Linked DNA regions of Homo sapiens. The gene in region 1 interacts genetically with each later gene. Each region holds a gene or a part of one and is shown on either strand. Other genes may lie near its edges.

What was found.
Region 2: changes in ARID1A (region 1) and BRMS1 together harm fitness more than expected from each alone (negative genetic interaction), as found in Homo sapiens cells (one large-scale study listed by BioGRID).
Region 3: changes in ARID1A (region 1) and ALG8 together harm fitness more than expected from each alone (negative genetic interaction), as found in Homo sapiens cells (one large-scale study listed by BioGRID).
Region 4: changes in ARID1A (region 1) and TUSC2 together harm fitness more than expected from each alone (negative genetic interaction), as found in Homo sapiens cells (one large-scale study listed by BioGRID).

What each region holds. Positions count from the first base shown.
Region 1 is NC_000001.11:26,764,740-26,769,512, forward strand, and holds part of ARID1A (AT-rich interactive domain-containing protein 1A), read left to right. Parts: intron 1-1,481; coding exon 1,482-1,627; intron 1,628-1,717; coding exon 1,718-1,827; intron 1,828-3,050; coding exon 3,051-3,260; intron 3,261-4,773. UniProt on the Homo sapiens protein: Involved in transcriptional activation and repression of select genes by chromatin remodeling (alteration of DNA-nucleosome topology).
Region 2 is NC_000011.10:66,342,226-66,346,995, reverse strand, and holds the start of BRMS1 (breast cancer metastasis-suppressor 1), read left to right. Parts: upstream 1-1,891; 5' UTR 1,892-2,024; intron 2,025-4,754; 5' UTR 4,755-4,761; coding exon 4,762-4,770. Other genes in the region: B4GAT1 (beta-1,4-glucuronyltransferase 1), read left to right, coding at 1-506, 756-947. UniProt on the Homo sapiens protein: Transcriptional repressor. Down-regulates transcription activation by NF-kappa-B by promoting the deacetylation of RELA at 'Lys-310'. Promotes HDAC1 binding to promoter regions.
Region 3 is NC_000011.10:78,133,048-78,137,263, reverse strand, and holds part of ALG8 (dolichyl pyrophosphate Glc1Man9GlcNAc2 alpha-1,3-glucosyltransferase), read left to right. Parts: intron 1-1,916; exon of another isoform or gene 1,917-2,034; intron 2,035-4,216.
Region 4 is NC_000003.12:50,325,345-50,330,302, forward strand, and holds the start of TUSC2 (tumor suppressor candidate 2), read right to left. Parts: upstream 2,880-4,958; 5' UTR 2,756-2,879; coding exon 2,610-2,755; intron 1,134-2,609; coding exon 1,013-1,133; intron 843-1,012; coding exon 777-842; 3' UTR 1-776. UniProt on the Homo sapiens protein: May function as a tumor suppressor, inhibiting colony formation, causing G1 arrest and ultimately inducing apoptosis in homozygous 3p21.3 120-kb region-deficient cells.

The DNA of each region.
Region 1 (4,773 bases):
TTAGCATGACAAAAAGTGGTACAGTTCAGCATTTCATCTATGCCTTTTGCCACAGACAGGGCCCTTAAATGGAAATACAACTTGACTTTGGAGGTGGCTTTGAGGAAGGCAGTACTTAAAGGACACAGCAGGGCTCTGCTTCAAAGAATTACACCCTTTGAAATTGAGCTATTGTGGCCGGGTGCGGTGGCTCACTCCTGTAATCCTAGCACTTTGGGAGGCTGAGGCAGGTGGATCACCTGAGGTCAGAAGTTCAAGACCAGCCTGCCCAGCATGGCAAAACCCCATCTCTACTAAAAATACAAAAAAATAGCCAGGCATGGTGGTGGGCGCCTGTAATCCCAGCTACTCACGAGGCTGAGGCAGAATGGCTTGAACCTGGGAGGCGGAGGTTGCAGTGAGCCGAGATCATGCCATTGCACTCCAGCCTGGGAGATGAGTGAAACTCCATCTCAAAAAAAAATTGGCCGGGCATGGTGGCTCACCCCTGTAATCCCAGCATTTTGGGAGGCTGAGGCAGGCGGATAACGAGGTCAGGACATCGAGACCATCCTGGCTAATACGGTGAAACCCTGTCTCTACTAATAAAGTACAAAAAATTAGCCGGGCGTGGTGGCAGGTGCCTGTAGTCCCAGCTACTTGGGAGGCTGAGGCAGGAGAATGGCGTGAACCCGGGAGGCGGAGCTTGCAGTGAGCTGAGATCGCGCCACTGCTCTCCAGCCTGGGCAACAGAGCGAGACTCCATCTCAAAAAAAAAAAAAATTGAACTATTGTTTGCTATCTAGAGCTTGAACTCTCTTAGTATCTTTCGTGGGAGGTAGAAGATAAGAAAATCTGGGTGTTGGCCGGGCTCGGTGGCTCATGCCTGTAATTCCAGCATTTTGGGAAGCCGAGGCAGGTGGATCACCTGAAGTCAGGAGTTCGAGACCAGCCTGACCAACATGGAGAAAGCCCATCTCTACTAAAAATACAACATTAGCCGGGTGTGGTGGTACATGCCTGTAATCCCAGCTATTTGGGAGGCTGAGAAAGGAGAATTGCTTGAACCTGGGAGGCTGAGATTGCAGTGAGCCGAGATTTCACCATTGCACTCCAGCCTGGGCAACAAGAGTGAAACTCTGTCTCAAAAAAAAAAAAAAGAAAATCTGGGTGTTAGCTGGACATGGTGGTGCATGCCTCATAGTCTTAGGCACTCAGGAGGCTGAGGAAGGCAGATTGTTTGAGCTCAGGAGATTAAGGCTGCAGTAAGCTATGATCACACCACTGCATTCCAGCCAGGGTGCCAGAGCAATACCCTGTCTCAAGAAAATAAATTAAAGAAAAATAATATCTGGATGTTGCATAGTTCTAGTTTTGGGGACCCATAAATGTTTTCCTTTTAATCCTTACTAGATGATCACACAGCACTATTTGGCTCCAGTTCAAATCTAAAAGCTCAGAGTCTAACCTTTGTCTCTCTCACTTTCCATCTTCTTCCTTAGGCCGCCAGGCTACCCCAATATGAATCAAGGGGGCATGATGGGAACTGGACCTCCTTATGGACAAGGGATTAATAGTATGGCTGGCATGATCAACCCTCAGGGACCCCCATATTCCATGGGTGGAACCATGGCCAACAATTCTGCAGGTAAGTGCTAGTCATTCTCACTAGGGATTTCTTCAAGAGTCACATCACAGCTAAACTTACTGGACTTGAGAATTTTTTTCTCTTTTACAGGGATGGCAGCCAGCCCAGAGATGATGGGCCTTGGGGATGTAAAGTTAACTCCAGCCACCAAAATGAACAACAAGGCAGATGGGACACCCAAGACAGAATCCAAATCCAAGGTAGTGATTTTTGTCTTGACTCCTTTCAACTTTGTGTCCTATCTTTTTCAGTGATAGGAAGGAAAAAGAAAAGAGAGTGACAAGATCCCAGCCTTTTATGACACCGGACTAGATAGTCTCTGAAAAAGCTGCTGTTGCCTCCTCTTATCATGAAAGGTCCCAGAATAATAGCTCAGTGAGTTGGGTCTGGGTTGGTCTAAGGGATCCTGGTAAATAACATAATATTCTCACAGCTGTTTGTTATGGGGGAAATGCCAGACACTGCAGCATCAAACTCTCTGTACTGTTTGGCTGGTGCCCTCTGTGAAACCGTGCCTCCTATACTCAAGCATTGATAGATGGGGTGTGCCATGGGCAACTAGTTGCTCTTCTCTTCCTGAACCTTACTCATAGCAGCAGGAATGGTACCCTGTGTTCTGTAAAGAAGGAGATAAGGCAGATGAGGCTTGAGTCCTTGGCTTCCCTTAGGTTGGTCCTGGGTGTACTGTTAGGCTGTGCGGTAGTAAAGGGTCCTACTCAGCATTTGGGTCATTTGTAATATTTCTGTCCTTGGCCATACCTCACTTTCCCTATCTGTATACATAGGGAAAATAAAAATCATAGCTGTTAATTCCTGTGAGTCTTCACCTCTGGCTCCCAGCCCTTTTGACCACGTTCCTGTCTTGTACAGGATAATATCCAAAGCCCTTCAACCAGGTGGGAAACCTTTCCTTTGTTTAGAAGAGGCAAAGAGTTTCTTTTCATTTTAGTCCATCCCATTGCCTCAAGATCATGTTGTGAGTTTTTCGATTTCTCTAAAACATAGTACCTAAGTATGTTCAGGCTCCTGGGTAGTAGTGTGGGAGCAGTAGTGGCTTTGATGTCAGGTGGACAAGGATTTGATACTCAGCCTGCCACTTAAAAGCTGTGAGATCTTAGGCTTTGCCTCCTGGTGCCTGCTTCCTTATCTTTACAAATGGGGATAATTTTATAATACCTAATATATAAAGGCATCTAGCACAGCACCCAGTACATAACATATATTTAGTGTTAGCTTCCTTCCTTTATAGGAAAAAAAAATTTGGTTCTCTTTTGGCCCTTCAACCTTATGAAGGTAGGACAGGTGTTAGTAACCACCCCAGAGTAAGAAGCTTTAACACTGCTCCAGTCAAGAGACTTCTGAGACCCTTAGCACAGGCTTTGAATCTGACCCATTCCTATGAATTTTGACCTGAACCTTCCAGAAATCCAGTTCTTCTACTACAACCAATGAGAAGATCACCAAGTTGTATGAGCTGGGTGGTGAGCCTGAGAGGAAGATGTGGGTGGACCGTTATCTGGCCTTCACTGAGGAGAAGGCCATGGGCATGACAAATCTGCCTGCTGTGGGTAGGAAACCTCTGGACCTCTATCGCCTCTATGTGTCTGTGAAGGAGATTGGTGGATTGACTCAGGTGAGTGGGCGCCTGACACTTGACTGCCCCTGTGGTTTCCACAAACCCCTTTCTAGGTACTCACTGGCTTCATGTGGTACCATGCATCCCACAGGGACATCATCCCCTCTCCCGCTTTCTGAGTCTAATATTGATAGACCGGGGAGCACAGGTTTCCCAGAAGATAAGGCAGGAAGCAGAGACCTCCCTGGTAGTATGAGGTATTAGCAGTAAGTTTACCGTGTATCTATGGTCCCACTGAGGTGTAAAGCTAGGGAAAGTCTGTGGGCATTCTGATTCCATGGGAGGCAATTTGGCATAGTAGCAAAGACAGGATTTGGAGAGATGGACCTGGTTTTGAATCCCTTCTTGGCCACTTATAACATATATGACCTTAAGGTGTGTAACCACTCTGAACCTTAATTTCATTATTTGTAAAATACAAACAGTATGTAACAGTATATAACCCACTAGACTGTCAAAAGTTAGAAATAACTTTGGCTTTCAGCAAGGTTTCTGCCACATAAATCGGCCTGCAAGATGGTACAGAGGCAGCCAGAGTAGAAGTAGATCTTCCCATTCCTGGAAGCTTCCCAGTAGAGATAGGATTTCAGGAACTGCTTAGTAGAAATAGTTTATAATAAAGGAAGAAGTAGTAGGAAATTATGTGTTTAGTTATTCTGTATGGGAAACTTAAATGAAAACCTGAATTGGACACCACCCAGAGCTTGTGCCTACTCTGATACCTTACAATTTTGTAGACTCAGCCCAGGAAGCAAACAGGTGAGGCAGCACAGACAGACAGCAGACTGTGCCTTGCAGACTTCCCTCCTGTGTATGTTCTGTAGTCACCAGACCAGAAGCCTGCTGTTGGATCAGTTTGTGGCTGAGCTCGGGGAGGTGTGGCAGGGAGGGATTTATTCCAAACCTTCTAAATCAGAAGAGGAAAACAGCTGTCACCAGCAGAAAAGAAAGTGGTTGGAATGAAGCCAGCCAACAGTCAGTTATGAATTCCTTCTCCCTTCAGGCTTTATTCCCCTCCCCCACAAAGGAAAACAAAACAAAATAAGACACGTGCATACTGCCACATAACTGGCATGAGAAGCAAAGCCACGGAAGGCTTTTGAGGTGACTCCATGCATATTCCTGCCATTCTCCCTGATACTCAGATCTCATAGTCAAGCCTTCCCTGTCTATAGGGAAAGGGAGCATTGGGTTAGGTTTCGCTCACTTCTGATTGGGTGGGCTTCAGGGTTCACTGAACCTAGGATGAGGTACAGAGAGAATTCTAATGCCTGAGCCTGTCTTCCAGATTGGAAAAGGATGCAAACCTTTAAAATGCCGTGATTGTAACTGAACTTTTATAAAGGCAGTGATAATTCAGGGGCAAAAGAGTGCTATTTATAAGTTAGTTTGTGAAGGCTCCAAGAAAGCAAAGCTGAATCTTGAGCTTATCTAAAGGATTAGTAGGGTTTAGGTGGAAGAGTGGCCAATCCAGTAGACTGGCCTAGATGCCACGGAGATGGGAGAGAGT
Region 2 (4,770 bases), on another chromosome or scaffold:
AGGTCTTTGACAAGCTAGCCAGGGTGGCCCAGCCCGGGATTAATTATGCGCTGGGCACCAATGTCTCCTACCCCAATAACCTGCTGAGGAATCTGGCTCGTGAGGGGGCCAACTATGCCCTGGTGATCGATGTGGACATGGTGCCCAGCGAGGGGCTGTGGAGAGGCCTGCGGGAAATGCTGGATCAGAGCAACCAGTGGGGAGGCACCGCGCTGGTGGTGCCTGCCTTCGAAATCCGAAGAGCCCGCCGCATGCCCATGAACAAAAACGAGCTGGTGCAGCTCTACCAGGTTGGCGAGGTGCGGCCCTTCTATTATGGGTTGTGCACCCCCTGCCAGGCACCCACCAACTATTCCCGCTGGGTCAACCTGCCGGAAGAGAGCTTGCTGCGGCCCGCCTACGTGGTACCTTGGCAGGACCCCTGGGAGCCATTCTACGTGGCAGGAGGCAAGGTGCCCACCTTCGACGAGCGCTTTCGGCAGTACGGCTTCAACCGAATCAGCCAGGTGCTCATAAGGGAGAGGGCAGGGGTAATGGGGCAGGAGGGGTGGTGGGATCAGGGAGTTATGAGGAGTGGCCCTGGATGGAAAGGAGGCAATGAAGCAGGAGGGATCATAGTTCAGGAGGTGGGTGGATGGTGTGGAAGATCCAGGATACTTCCAGAGGGGTGAGGACGCTGGACTGTGGCTTTAGGGAAGTCAGTCTCAGGCCTGTCAATGTCATCAAACTTTGCTAACCTGTCTTTCCTCCTGCAGGCCTGCGAGCTGCATGTGGCGGGGTTTGATTTTGAGGTCCTGAACGAAGGTTTCTTGGTTCATAAGGGCTTCAAAGAAGCGTTGAAGTTCCATCCCCAAAAGGAGGCTGAAAATCAGCACAATAAGATCCTATATCGCCAGTTCAAACAGGAGTTGAAGGCCAAGTACCCCAACTCTCCCCGACGCTGCTGAGCCCTTCCCTCCCCTAATCTGAGAAGTCAGCCTCTTGGCTCCTCAGGCCACCATTTAGGCCTGACTGGGGTAAGAAATGTCGCTCCACTTTACAGAGGTAGCTGTGGTGTTGAAACACTGGACTTGGATATGGGGTGCTGGGATCGATTCCTAGCTTTACCACTAACTAGCTGTGTGGCCTTGAGTAAATCCCGTTACCTCTCTGAGCCTCGGTTACCCTGTCTGTAAAAAGGGAGGTGAGAATACCTACCTCACGGAACTGTTGGGAGGCTCAGATGAGATGCTATATGTGAAAACATTCTGTAAGCTTCGTACAAATGTGAAGTATTAATATTATCGCAGTATTATTGTTGTTATTATTATTGTTATTATTAACAATCTTGGGTGGGTAGTAGGAGAGCAAAAAGTATGAATGGGATGGAGCTAAGAAGTCTGAATACTTAATGAAATGGACTTTTTGGAAAGAAATCAGATGAAGGCATAAAATTTAGTTCTTAGCTCTTGAACAGAAGCCTAAAATTCCTGGTTCTCTCAGGGCTTCGCCTTCAAGGGTTCTGGAGGAGGGAAGGGTCTGCAGGTTCCATGGGTGACAGCCTGAGATCTGTCCCTTCAACGGGCTGGGCTGGGTATGTGCCTACCGATGACAATGTGTAAATAAATGCGTGTTCACACCCACAGCTGGCTCCGTTACTCTCCTGAGCTGGGGGTGGGGGGATCGGGGCCGGCTTCTCCCCTTGCACGCCGTGGGGAGATGGCCGCGGACGAAGGGCACCGTCTGCAAAGCACTGAACCATCAGGGCCTTCCCTGCAGGCCGAAGGCCTGCGCGAATGTCGGCCAGTTACTATGGAGACCGGCCCGCGGTATCCCAGCATGCCTCGGGACCAAACTGTCCAACTGTGAGCATCCCCGACGGTCGCCTCCTGATGACGCACACGGAAGCACCGATAGGCTCTGCCTCCCGAAGAAAAGGGAGCCGCGCAGCGCCTACGGGAGTCCGGCGGCAGCAGCCGGTACCGGCAACCACGGGCAGCTCTCAGGGAATCTCCGTCGTGAGGCCAGAGGCTCCAGTCCCCGCGGTGCGTATCGTCATGCATGGCTTTTGGTTCGCCCTCTCCGGTTAGTCGAGCAGGGCCGGCACAACCTCCTCCTCCGAGGCCGAAGCAGAGATTTAACCGGCCTGACGCGTGCTGGGCTGCGGGCGAGCCAGTGATATTCCGGCCCGCTCCGGCGCATCTAGAAGGGAGCGGGAGGCCCCCTGGGCGCTGCGGAGAAGCTGGATTGACCTCTGCGAGAGTGGGGAGGGTCTGCCTTCCCTAGGGGCCTGCCCCGGAGGAGCTGCCATTCTGAAAAGATAAATTGCCTGTGTACAGCGCTTTACAGTGTGCTTTTCCATCCCTTACCACCTGTGAGCTCCTCAACACTCAGAGCAGGAATGGTTATCCGCTTTTTGCACCCGGGGTAAGGTGGGAAGGTTGTGACTTAACTCACTCATAATCAGAACCAGGGGGAGGAAAGAAAGGCTTCTGGAAGAGATAGACTTAAGCTGCATCTTACAAAGTGAATATACTAACAGTGAAGAGGCATTGCAAATGTTGGGAACTGAGGCTTGATAACGGGAAGATGAAGCTGGTTTAGAGAACCGAGCCTTTCAAGTCAGGTGCAGGTCATTAGTGAAATTGTTGAGGAATATGACTAAACACTCACCTAGGCCAGGCTTACTATACACAACTTGAACTGGTGTCAAGGAAAGCTTGCTACCATTACAGGGACCTGGGACTACCGAAAAGTAAAAACTAATGTCTGTCTCACAAAAAATTTTTTTGTTAAATTTGTATTTGCAAATCCTCCAGTCATCAAGTGAACCAGCACTGTGCTAGGTAAATAAGTTACATGTGCAGCCCCTGCCCTAGTGAGGCTCATAGACTGATTGCGGGGACAGATATGAGAACAGGCAAATAGATATAAACAAAGCTTCCTGGAGGGAGTGGTGTCTGCACTGTTCTAAAGGACTACAAAGCAGTGTCCAGAGAAGTTGGAAGAACACAATAAAATAGAAGCCTGCAGGAGGTTGAGAGATTATCTGCTGAGAGGACTGTTTTCTTCTTCTTAGGTGATCTCTTGGCAGTACTTGGCACTATCAGTGCAATTACTCCTTGGCAGTACTTGGCTTTCTTCTAAAACTCTTTCTCCACCACTTCGGGTTTTGCCTCCTCCTTTGTAGGGGTCTCCTCATCTGCCCCTTTGGTGACCCTGGGCGTCTTCTGATCGCACACATTGTGCCTTGCTGGTTGCACCTTCTCCTGTGGCATGAAGAACTTGCTGTATGCTGACGACCAAATCCCTGCAGCTCAGATTTCTCACTGAGACTTAGACCCATGTTCCCCCAGCTGCTTTCCTTCTCTTATTTCTGGGTCTTTGCTACTGACTCTACCTGGAATGTTCCCTCAATAAGTGCAGCTCACCCAGCTGGTCCATCTTTGTCTGGAAGCCTCCCTGCTGCATCGGGCTCCAGGTCCTGGTTATATACCCCTCCCTTATGCCCCTGGTCTTAACTCTCCTCCTATCATGGTTATAGTGTGCTCCTTTGCCCCTGTCTCCCAGGAACTTGTAAACTCCGTGAGGTCAAAGACATTCACACTTGGGCGCCTGCATACCATAGCGTCTGACGGTACCTAGCATATGTTAGATGTTCAATACATGTTAGATGAGTCAGTAAAAGAAGGAATGCTTACCAGTGTTGGATGTTGCCGAGCAGACAATTAAAATAAGCACTGAAAAATATTGGCATTAGCCACAAGGAAGTCATTGGTTAATGCTACGGGATCAGTTTCAGCTGAGATTGAGGACATCGAACAAGTGGGAGGTGAAAGTAGGAACAGCCAGTGTTCATGAGACCTTGAAAAGTGTAACTGTGAAGTGGCAAATGGAGCAGTTAGGTGGAATGGGTGAGGTTTTGTGTTTCTGTGTTTTGTTAATGCTAGGAAGTACCCAAGCACATCCAAAGTTTCATGGGAAGGAGGTTGCTAAGAGTTAGAAGCTGAAGACACAGAAAAGAGAGGGGAGCACTGATGACCTGCGGTCCAAGAGGAAGCAGAAGGAGATGGGATTTGACCCAGAGCACAATGAAAGACAAGGAGATTGTAACATTATCTGGAAGAGAAGCCGAGGACATTATAGGCAGAAGGAACAGCTGAGGCAGAGGGTGGATAGTGGAAGTGCAAGCACTAGCCATTATATGTTGGGATGAAGGAGCTGGACCGGTAGGTCAAGTCCAGTCTGGGAAAGACCTTGAAAGCCCCAGTTAGAAATTTAGGTCCAGTTTGGGTGTGGTGCGGGCGCCTGTAATCTCACTACTCAGGAGGCTGAGGCAGGAGAATCGCTTGAACCCAGGAGGAGGAGGTTGCAGTGAGCTGAGATCGTGCCACTGCACTCCAGCTTGTCAACAGAGCGAGACTCTGTCTCAAAAAATAATAAGAAGAAAAGAAATTTAGGTCCAGTTGCAAAGGCAGTGGAGAGTGCCCCCTGGGCCTTTCCTTTCTGTGGATCACAGCCTTGGCCAGTATTGCTAGGATTAGGATCACCAGTGACATCCAAGAGCAGGAGCAGTTCCACAGCTCCCAGCCTTCTGTGAGAGGTGCAGATGGCCATTTGCACCCTTGTCACCCAGTTTGTGCTCAAGGTGTGGCCAGGCCAGTTACTTCCCTGGCTTTCCCCATCTGGGATCGAGTTGTGTTCAGCATCCTGCTGCCTCTTTCCCCCTCTGAGCTGTGGGCAGCCATAAGTGATAGCTCCATTCCTTCTCCCAGAGTCCAGATGCCTGTC
Region 3 (4,216 bases), on another chromosome or scaffold:
AATTCTTTGAAGCCTAAGAGAGGTGAGGAAGTTGCAGAAGAAAATTTGGAAGCTAGCAGAGGTTCTTTTAAGAAAAGAAGCCATCGGCCGGACGCGGTGGCTCATGCCTGTGATCCCAGCACTTCGGTAGGCCAAGACGGGCGGATCACCTGAGGACCAACATGGAGAAATCTCGTCTCTACTAAAAATACAAAATTAGCTGGGCGTGGTGGAGCATGCCTGTGATCCCAGGTACTTGGGAGGCTGAGGCAGGAGAATCACTTGAACCCGGGAGGTGGAGGTTGCAGTGAGCTGAGATCGCGCTATTGCACTCCAGCCTGGGCAACAAGAGTGAAACTCTGTCTCAAAAAAAAAAAAAGGAAGAAAAGAAGCCATCTCCATAATAAAGTACAAGGTGAAGCAGCAAGTGCTGATGTAGAAGCTGCAGTAAGTTTTCTAGAAGATCTAGCTAAGCTCACTGATGAAGGTGGCTACACTAAACAATAGGTTTTCAAGGTAGAAGAAACAGACTTACATTGGAAGATGCCATCTATGACATCTAGTTGAGCCATTTCTCACTTACTATTCTAAAAATCCAATGGCCCTTAAGACTTATGCTAAATCTACTCTGCCTGTGATCTATAAATGGAACAACAAAGCCCTGGATGACAGCACATCTATTTACAGCATGGTTTACTGAATAAGCCCACTGTTGAGACCTACTGCTCAGAAACATTTTTTTTTTCTAGAGGCAGGGTCTCGCTCTATCTCCCAGGGTGAAGTACAGCGGCACCATCATGGCTCACTGCAGCCTTAATCTCCTGCGCTTGAGCAGCCTTCCTCCCTCAGCCTCCCGAATAGCTGGGACAAAGACAGATGCCACCATGCCCAGCTAATTTTTTTTCCTTTCTCTCTCTATTATCTGTCTGTCTATCTATCTATATGTGTGTGTTTTGTTTTGGTTTGTTTTTTTTTTTTCTTTTTGGTAGAGACGAGGTGTCACTGTGTTGCCCAGGCTGATCTCGAACTCCTGGGCTCAAGTGAGCCCTTCCAAAGTGCTGGGATTACAGGCCTGAGCCACCTCACTGGTCAATATTTTTCCTTTTTCTTTTCTTTTTTGAGACAGTGTTTCACTTTGTCAGGCTGGAGTGCACTGGTATGATCTCAGCTCACTGCTGCCTCTACTTCCTGGGCTCAAACAATCCTCCCATCTCAGCTCCCCAAGTAGCTTGAACTACAGGTGCACACCACTACACCCAGCTAACTTTTTGTATTTTTTGCAGAGATGGGGTTTCACCATGTTGCCCAGGCTCGTCTCAAATTCCTGACCTCAAGCGATCCACCTGTCTTGGCCTCCCAAAGTGCTAGGATTACAGACATGAGCCACTGCACCCACCCATTATTTTTCTTTTTTTTTTTTCTTATTTATTTATGTTTGAGACGGAGTTTCACTCTGTCTCCCATGCTGGAGTGTAGTGGCACAATCTCAGCTCACTGCAACCTCAGCTTCCCGGGTTCGAGTGATTCTCCTGCTTCAGCCACCCAAGTAGCTGGGATTACAGGTGCACACCATCATGCCCTGCTAATTTTTATATTTTTAGTAGAGATGGGGTTTTGCCACATTGGCCAGGCTGGTCTTGAACTCCTGGCCTCAAGTGATCTGCTCTCTTTGGCCTCCCAAAGTGTTGGGATTACAGGCGTGAGCACCATGCCCGGCTTTTTTTTTAAATGTATTTTTGGAGAGATGGGGTCACTGTGTTGCTCAGGCCGGCCTGGAATTCCTAGGCTCAAGCAATCCTCCTACCTTTGCCTCCCAAAGTTCTGGGATTACAGACATGAGCCCCTGTGCCCAACCTTAATGTTGTTTTCATGCCTGCTGATGTAACATCTATTCTGCAGCCAGTTGAGTAGTTGATTTTTTTTTTTTTTTGAAACAGGGTCTCACTCTGCCTCTCAGGCTGTAGTGCAGTAGCATGATCTCATCTCACTGCAACCTCCACCTTTCAGGCTCAAGCAATCCTCCTACCTCAACCTGCCAAGTAGCTGGGACTTAAGGTGTGTGCTACCATACCCTGCTAATTTTTTGTATTTTTAGTAGAGATGGGTTTTTGCTGTGTTGCCCAGGCTGTTTTTGAACTCCTGTGCTCAAGCAATCTGCCTGCCTTGGCCTCCCAAAGTGCTAGGATTATAGGCGTGAGCCACCATGCCCAATCAGTTTTGACTTTTAAGTCTTGTTATTTAAGAAATACATTTCATAAGGCTATATCTGCCATAGATAGTGATTCTTCTGATGGATCTGGGCAAAGTAAATTGAAACCATTCTAGATGCTATTAAGAACATTCATGATTCATGGGAGGAGGTCAAGATATCAACATTAACAAGAGTTTGGAAGAATTAGATTCCAACTCCAATGGATAACTTTGAGGGGTTCAAGACTTCATTGGAAAAAGTAACTGCAGATGTCATGGGAATAGCAAGAGAACTAGAAGTGGAGCCTGAGCATGTGATTGAATTGCTGCATGATATCTCATGATACAACTTGAGTGGATGAGGAGTTACTTCTCATGGATGAGCAGAGAAAGTGGTTTCTTTTGAGATGCACTCTGCTAATGAAGATGCTGTGAATATTGTTGAAATGACAACAAAGGATTTAGAATATTATATAAACTTAGTTAATAATCAGTGGCAGGGTTTGAGAAGAAGGATTGACTCTAGTTTTGAAAGTTTTACTGTGGGTAAAATCCTATCAAACAGCATTGCATACTAGAGGAATCTTTTGTGAAAGGAAGAGCCCATCAATGTGGCAAGCTTCATTGTTGTTTTATTTTAAGCAATTGCCACAGTCTTGCCAGGCGCAGTGGCTCATGCCTGTAATCCCAGCGTTTTGGGAGGCTGAGGCGGGCGGGTCACCTGAGGTCAGGAGTTCAAGACCCGCCTGGCCAACATGGGGAAACCCCGTCTCTACTAAATATACAAAAATTAGCCAAGTGTGGTGGTGGGCACCTGTGATCCCAGCCACTTAGGAGGCTGAGGCAGGAGAATCACTTGAACCCAGGAGGCGAAGGTTGTAGTGAGCCAAGATCACACCATTGCACTCCAGCCTGGGTGACAAGAGTGAGACTCCATCTCAAAAAAAAAAAAAAACCAGTTTGCCACAAGTCACCCCAATCTTCAGCACCCATAAACCTGATCAATCAACAGCCATCAACATTGAAGCAAAATCCTCCACCAGCAAAAAGATTAGGACTTGCCGAAGGTGCAGATGATCATTAGCTTTGTTTTAGCGATAAAGTATTTTAAAATGAAGGTGTACGCTGTCTTTTTAGACATAGTAGTATTGCACGTTTTATAGTATAGTGTAAACATAACTTTTTTTTTTTTTTGAGACGGAGTCTCGCTCTGTCGCCCAGGCTGGAGGGCAGTGGCGCTATCTCGGCTCACTGCAAGCTCACCTTCCGGGTTCACACCATTCTTCTGCCTCAGCCTACCGAGTAGCTGACCCTACAGGCGCCCCTCACCAAGCCCGGCTAATTTTTTTTGTATTTTTAGTAGAGATGGGGTTTCACCATGTTAGCCAGGGTGGTCTCGATCTCCTGACCTCGTGATCCGCCCGCCTCGGCCTCCAAAGTGCTGGGATTACAGGCGTGAGCCACCGCGGCCGGCCAGTGTAAACATAACTTTTACATGCTCTGGGAAATCAAAAAATTCATGTGACTCACTTTATTGCGATATTCACTTCATTATGGTGGTCTAAACCCACAATATCTCTAAGGTATGCCTGCACTAAAATCGAATGATACAGGAAGCTTAGCATGGTCCACGCACAAGGATAGCATGCAAATTTATGAAACACTTCATATATTTAAAAACGAATGTTTTTAATTGTAGTTAATGCTCTGTTTCTCAAACCAGAAACCCCTGGGATATGAGAGGGAAGTTACAGGATAAATGCAGATATATTCAACAAAACATTTACTAATTGCTTTATTATGTACCAGGTACTGTTGCTAGGCTAGAAGGGAGGAAAAAATAGATATGATCCCTAGCCCTGTGAAGTGTGTAGTTCAGTAAGTATAACAGTACAAGAAACAAATCAATGCAAATATATAGTTACATAACTACAATTTGGATTAAGTATTAGGAAGAAGAGGCTGGGTGTGGTGGCTCACGCCTGTAATCCCAGCACTTTGGGAGGCCGAGGCGGGCGGATCACGAGGTCAGGAGATCGAGACCATC
Region 4 (4,958 bases), on another chromosome or scaffold:
TGGGTTGGAGTAACTCCCCATAGGCACAAGCATCCGCAGCCTGTCCTGACCCCAGCCTGCACTCTCTCAACTCCTCAACTGGGGGTTCGGGGTTGGGGGGCAACAGTTAGTTGCAGTAGGGGGATCAGCCCAGCCCTGGGTAGAGGGAGAAGCCCCCACCCAGTCCCCACTCCTATCAATAGCCAGCAAACTGTCCATCCATCTGAAGGCGGGAACAAATGGCAGGTAGGTCGGAAGAATCAGGCTGGCACTGCCCCCAGCCTCTGTCCAACACAGGAGGAATCGAGGTAGCAAACGGCTGAAATGCTCTGACTAGGGGTTAAAAGGGAAGTGAAGGAAAGGAAGTTCCTACTTGTATACAGTGCCCACAGCCTAGGGGCTGGAAGAAAGCATACCTTGCTTGTAAAGTGCTGTAGCCTCTAGCAGGGCTAGGCCCCAGGCAAACTTGGAAGAAAGCAGACCAGGCAAGGAACCAGGTAACGGGCATTCCTGACTGGTATATGCCCTGCTGTGCTGCTTGCAGGGGTGGCTTGGGAGAGTGGGGTGCTAACTCTGCCATTAGCCTTCACCACCCACCAACCACCTCTTGTCCACACACAAACCAACACCCAACCAATACTGTGGGACCGACCCGCTCACAGCTGAAGGTTATGGGCCAACAGAGTTTATTCAGGGTTGTGGCCCCAGCCTGGGCTCCTCAATGGAAGCCACACCTTGATTGAGCCTGGGAGTTTCTTGCCGGGGCAGGGGGTGCTTCTGTCTGCCACCTCCCAGGGTCACACCTCATAGAGGATCACAGGGAAATCCACGTGGATGCGGGGGTGATCCAGCTTCACGATGCCCTGCCATGGAAACAGAGGCTAGTAAGGGTCAGCTCAGGGCCTCTACTTCAGGAAGCTTCCTTGTTCCTCCCAGATCCCCCCGCAAAAGCCCCCACCATGACAACAGATCCCATCTGGGTCCACCTCCACACGCTTAGTGTAGGCTCTGTGACCGCTGCCCAGCCCCTCACCTGAGGAATCAGATTCTTATGCACTCGCCTCAGCTTGGCCCGCTTCTGCCCGTTCTTGGTGACGATTGTCTCCTCATAGAACTCGTGAGCCAGATCCCCATCCTCATCATAGAACATAGAGCTGTGTAGAGGGAGAAGGAAACAGGCTGGGCTGGAGCCCCACACCTGGGCATGGCAAATGTCACAGGTCACGGGGAAGTCTGTGGTCTTCCCAACCCCAAGTGGGAAGAAAAGAGGATAATATGCCTGGAGAATCCTTTTTTTAAAAAAAATTTTTCGAGACAGAATCTCACTCTGTTGCCCAGGCTGGAGGTGCAGTGGCGCGATCTCAGCTTGCTGCAACCTCTGCCTCCTGGGTTCAAGCAATTCTCCTGCCTCAGCCTCCCAAGTAGCTGGGACTACAGACATGCACCACCACACCCTGCTAATTTTTTGTATTTTAGTAGAGACGGGGTTTTGCCATGTTGCTCTGGCTGGTCTCGAACTCCTGAACTCAGGCAATCCACTCGTCTTCATCTCCCAAAGTGTTAGGATTACAGGCGTGAGCCACGGTGCCTGGCCTGCCTGGAGAATCCTTTGCCTGGGGTTTGGGGTCTACTAGAAGAAAGTGGGAAGTGAGGTGATGGGTGGGCAGTGCTACTATGTCAGACCCCCAAGAAGAGAGCCCACACCAGAGCACACCATCCAGGCAGCCACCAAGGCCAGTTCTCATCCTTGATTTGTTCAGCAAGGGCAGCCATTCTAATATCAGGACTTTGCCTTCACCCAGGACTTCTAGAGTGGGCAGGGTGGTGGCCTGGGCATGTTGGTCTCACTCCAGAAGATGCTGCTGGCCCAGTGTCAAAGACTGAAATAGCAGAAGCCTAAGCTAGGAAGAAGCACAAAGGAATGAAGGCTGCGTCTCCCCTGACCCCACACCCCAGGTGGCTGGTGAATTGCCACTGTTGGGTCTTCCTGGTGTCTACAGCCAAATCTCTAGCACAGGGAGCGCCCATCTCCAGGAGCCCACTAGAGCCAAGCCAATCTGGTACTCTTGTGCGGGCCTCTGGGAGACTGGGCTGGGGGTTGGGTGGGTAGGTCAGCGCTCTGGATCTGGAGAACATAACTGGGTGAGGGTCTTTTTTCCTCAGCCTCACCCCCAATACTGAGGCCTATCCCTGCTTTCCCAGCCACTACGCTCAAAGGTTCAGCCCCACTACTGTCAGGAAAAGCAGCCTAAACAGAGGGTTATTATCCCCTTGGAATAACTGGGGGGGAAAGGGAGGCTAGGACCCTTCAGTATGCAGGCTGAGCCGGAAGGGATGAAAGGAAGAGATCTTATGGAGGTCTTATGGAGGCCCTAGCTTAGCTTTACCGTGCGGAAGGTCCGACCAGTGACAAGCCTCAGGCCCACTCTTCCCTAGGGAGACTTTCAGAGTGGCCAGGCCGCCAGGAGACCACTGCCCGGCTTTCTCCACCCCCAGCTCCAATGAGGCTCAAAATATGGGGGTCGTCCTGGCTTGGCTGTAGTGGGGTACAGCGGTGGAAGTTCCCCCGTGGCGCGGGACGCCTGGCCGCCCGCCTGTTCCCCCCGCCAGGGTGGAACCCATGCCCTTACCCGCGGCGCGTGAATACGAAGGGGGGCACAGCTCGGCCCCGAGGCCGCACCAAAGCTTGCTCAGCTCCTGCTGCCTCTGAGCCGCCGCCTCCGGCCGCCGAGGCGAAGGGCCACAGGCCCCGAGCTTTGGACCCGCTGGCGCCCATGTCAGGGCCGCCGGCGCATGGCGGGCCCCGTGGCCGCTCTGCTCACACCGCAGTCCGCACTACCATAACCTGCCCCAGCCGCTGATCGCAGGTGCCGCCGCCGCCGCCTTCCGCAGGCTCGGCTGTCTCCACGGAAACCTCACTTCCGCTTCCGCACGCTGCCACCTCTGATTGGCTGTTGCTCAAGTCGTGGGGGCGGGACCAATGGGCGCCCTTAGATGCTGGGCATCCCAGCATGCGTTGCGAGATCCCAGGTCCCAGCAAGCGCGATCTGACCAGCTGGGACAGCTCCCACCGAGGAAAGTGGTGGCCGTGAGTCCTCCCGGTCTTTTGGGTGTATTTGGCGGCTCTGACGTCCCCCAACACCTGAGTTCAGGCCTAGCAGGACTTCGCAAGCACCAATCCTCAAACCTGCACTTCAGGGCCTAAGGCCAGACCGCCGGGTGCCCATCTGGCTTCTATTTTCACAGCTGTATTTTTGCGATTGCCACGCTTATGTGAACTAACCAAGTTGAAAGAAAATTAAGGAACTGGCCAGATTCACATAGTTACATTCAGTTCTGAAGAACTTCGAATTCAGTGTTTTCAAACCCAGCAGAGTCCATGCTTAATGAAAGCAAGAATTGTTAACAGCTATACCCTCGGTATCACGAGCAGTGTCTGGTCCACGGTGGCAGCTCTGTATTTGGTGAAGGAGTTATGCCACACCTTCTCCCAGAGCGTGGTGTGTGTGTGTTGAAGGGATGGTTTTGTTTTTTTTTTTTTTTGAGATGGAGTTTCACTCTTGTCGCCCAGGATAATGTGCAGTGGCACGATCTCGGCTCACTGCAGCCTCTGCCTCCAGGGTTCAAGCGATTCTCCTGCCTCAGCCTCCCGAGTACTTGGGATTACAGGCATCTGCCACCATGCCGGCTAATTTTTTTGTATTTCTAGTAGAGACGGGGTTTCACCATGTTGGTCAGGCAGTCTTGAACTCCGGACCTCAGGTGATCCACCCGCCTTGGCCTCCCAAAGTGCTGGGATTACAGGCCTGAGCCACTGCGCCCGGCCGTTTTTTTTTTTTTTGAGTTGGAGTCTTGCTCTATCGGAGTGCAGTGGTGTGATCTCCACTCACTGCAACCTCTGCCTGCCGGGTTCAAGCGATTCTCCTGCCTCAGCCTTCTGAGTAGCTGGGACTACAAGCGCCCACCACCACGCCCAGCTAAATTTTTTTTGTATTTTTGGTAGAGATGGGGTTTCGCCATGCTGGCCAGGCTGGCCTCGAACTCCTGGCCTCAAGTGATCTGCCCACCTAGCCCAACCAAAGTGTTGGGATTACAGGTGTGAGCCACTATGCCCAGCCAGTTTCCCTAAGTTCTAACTGCAGTCCATTTTTGTCTCCACCACAACCTGAGCCCCAGGGAGCTGAGTGATGACCAAGTATGTATGCATACTACATCTTCACAAATTGGTCCATGGTGACTTTGCAAGACACCTGGGAGCCTGTCCATCACCCTTGGCAACTTCTGGCACCATGAGGGGCAACTGCAGCTCTGCGCCTATAATAATAAAGAGTCCAGGCTGGGCAGGGTGGCTCACACCTGTAATCCCAACACTTTGGGAGGCCAAGTTGGGAGGATCCTGGGCAACACAGAGAGACTCATGTCTCTACAAAAACTTTATATGTATAAAAGATTCCAACAGCAGGAGGATCTTGAAATCTTTATTGAGCCAATTCTCTCAGGCCCCAGGCCCTGATGATGACTGTCACCCCAACCCCTTTCCCCACAGGAGGCATTCAGCTGAGGCCACCACACATTACATACATTCACGCACTTCATAAAAAACACCTGAGGGAGAGACCCTGGCTTTGATTAGCAAATAAGGTATGAACCTGGGCCAGTGCCCACATTCACACAGACCCTGGCCCAGGGACATCCTCCTCATATGAAGCATTAAGGCACATGCTGTACTGTGAGCCAGCACTCCCTGACCTCAGGGTGTGTGAGGAGTTGGCACTGTAGAGAGAAACCAAGACTCTTCCTCAATGCCTGCCTTATTCTGAGCACCCACCCTTAGCTCTGATAAGGATATCCTGAGACCACATTCAAGATCCAAAACCTTTCCTCATAGATGAGGGCCGTCACCCCTGCAAACATGACCCTGTTCTGTTTGCAGGGTCTCCAAGATTTTCACTTCTGAGACAAAAATTGAGGAGACTTCT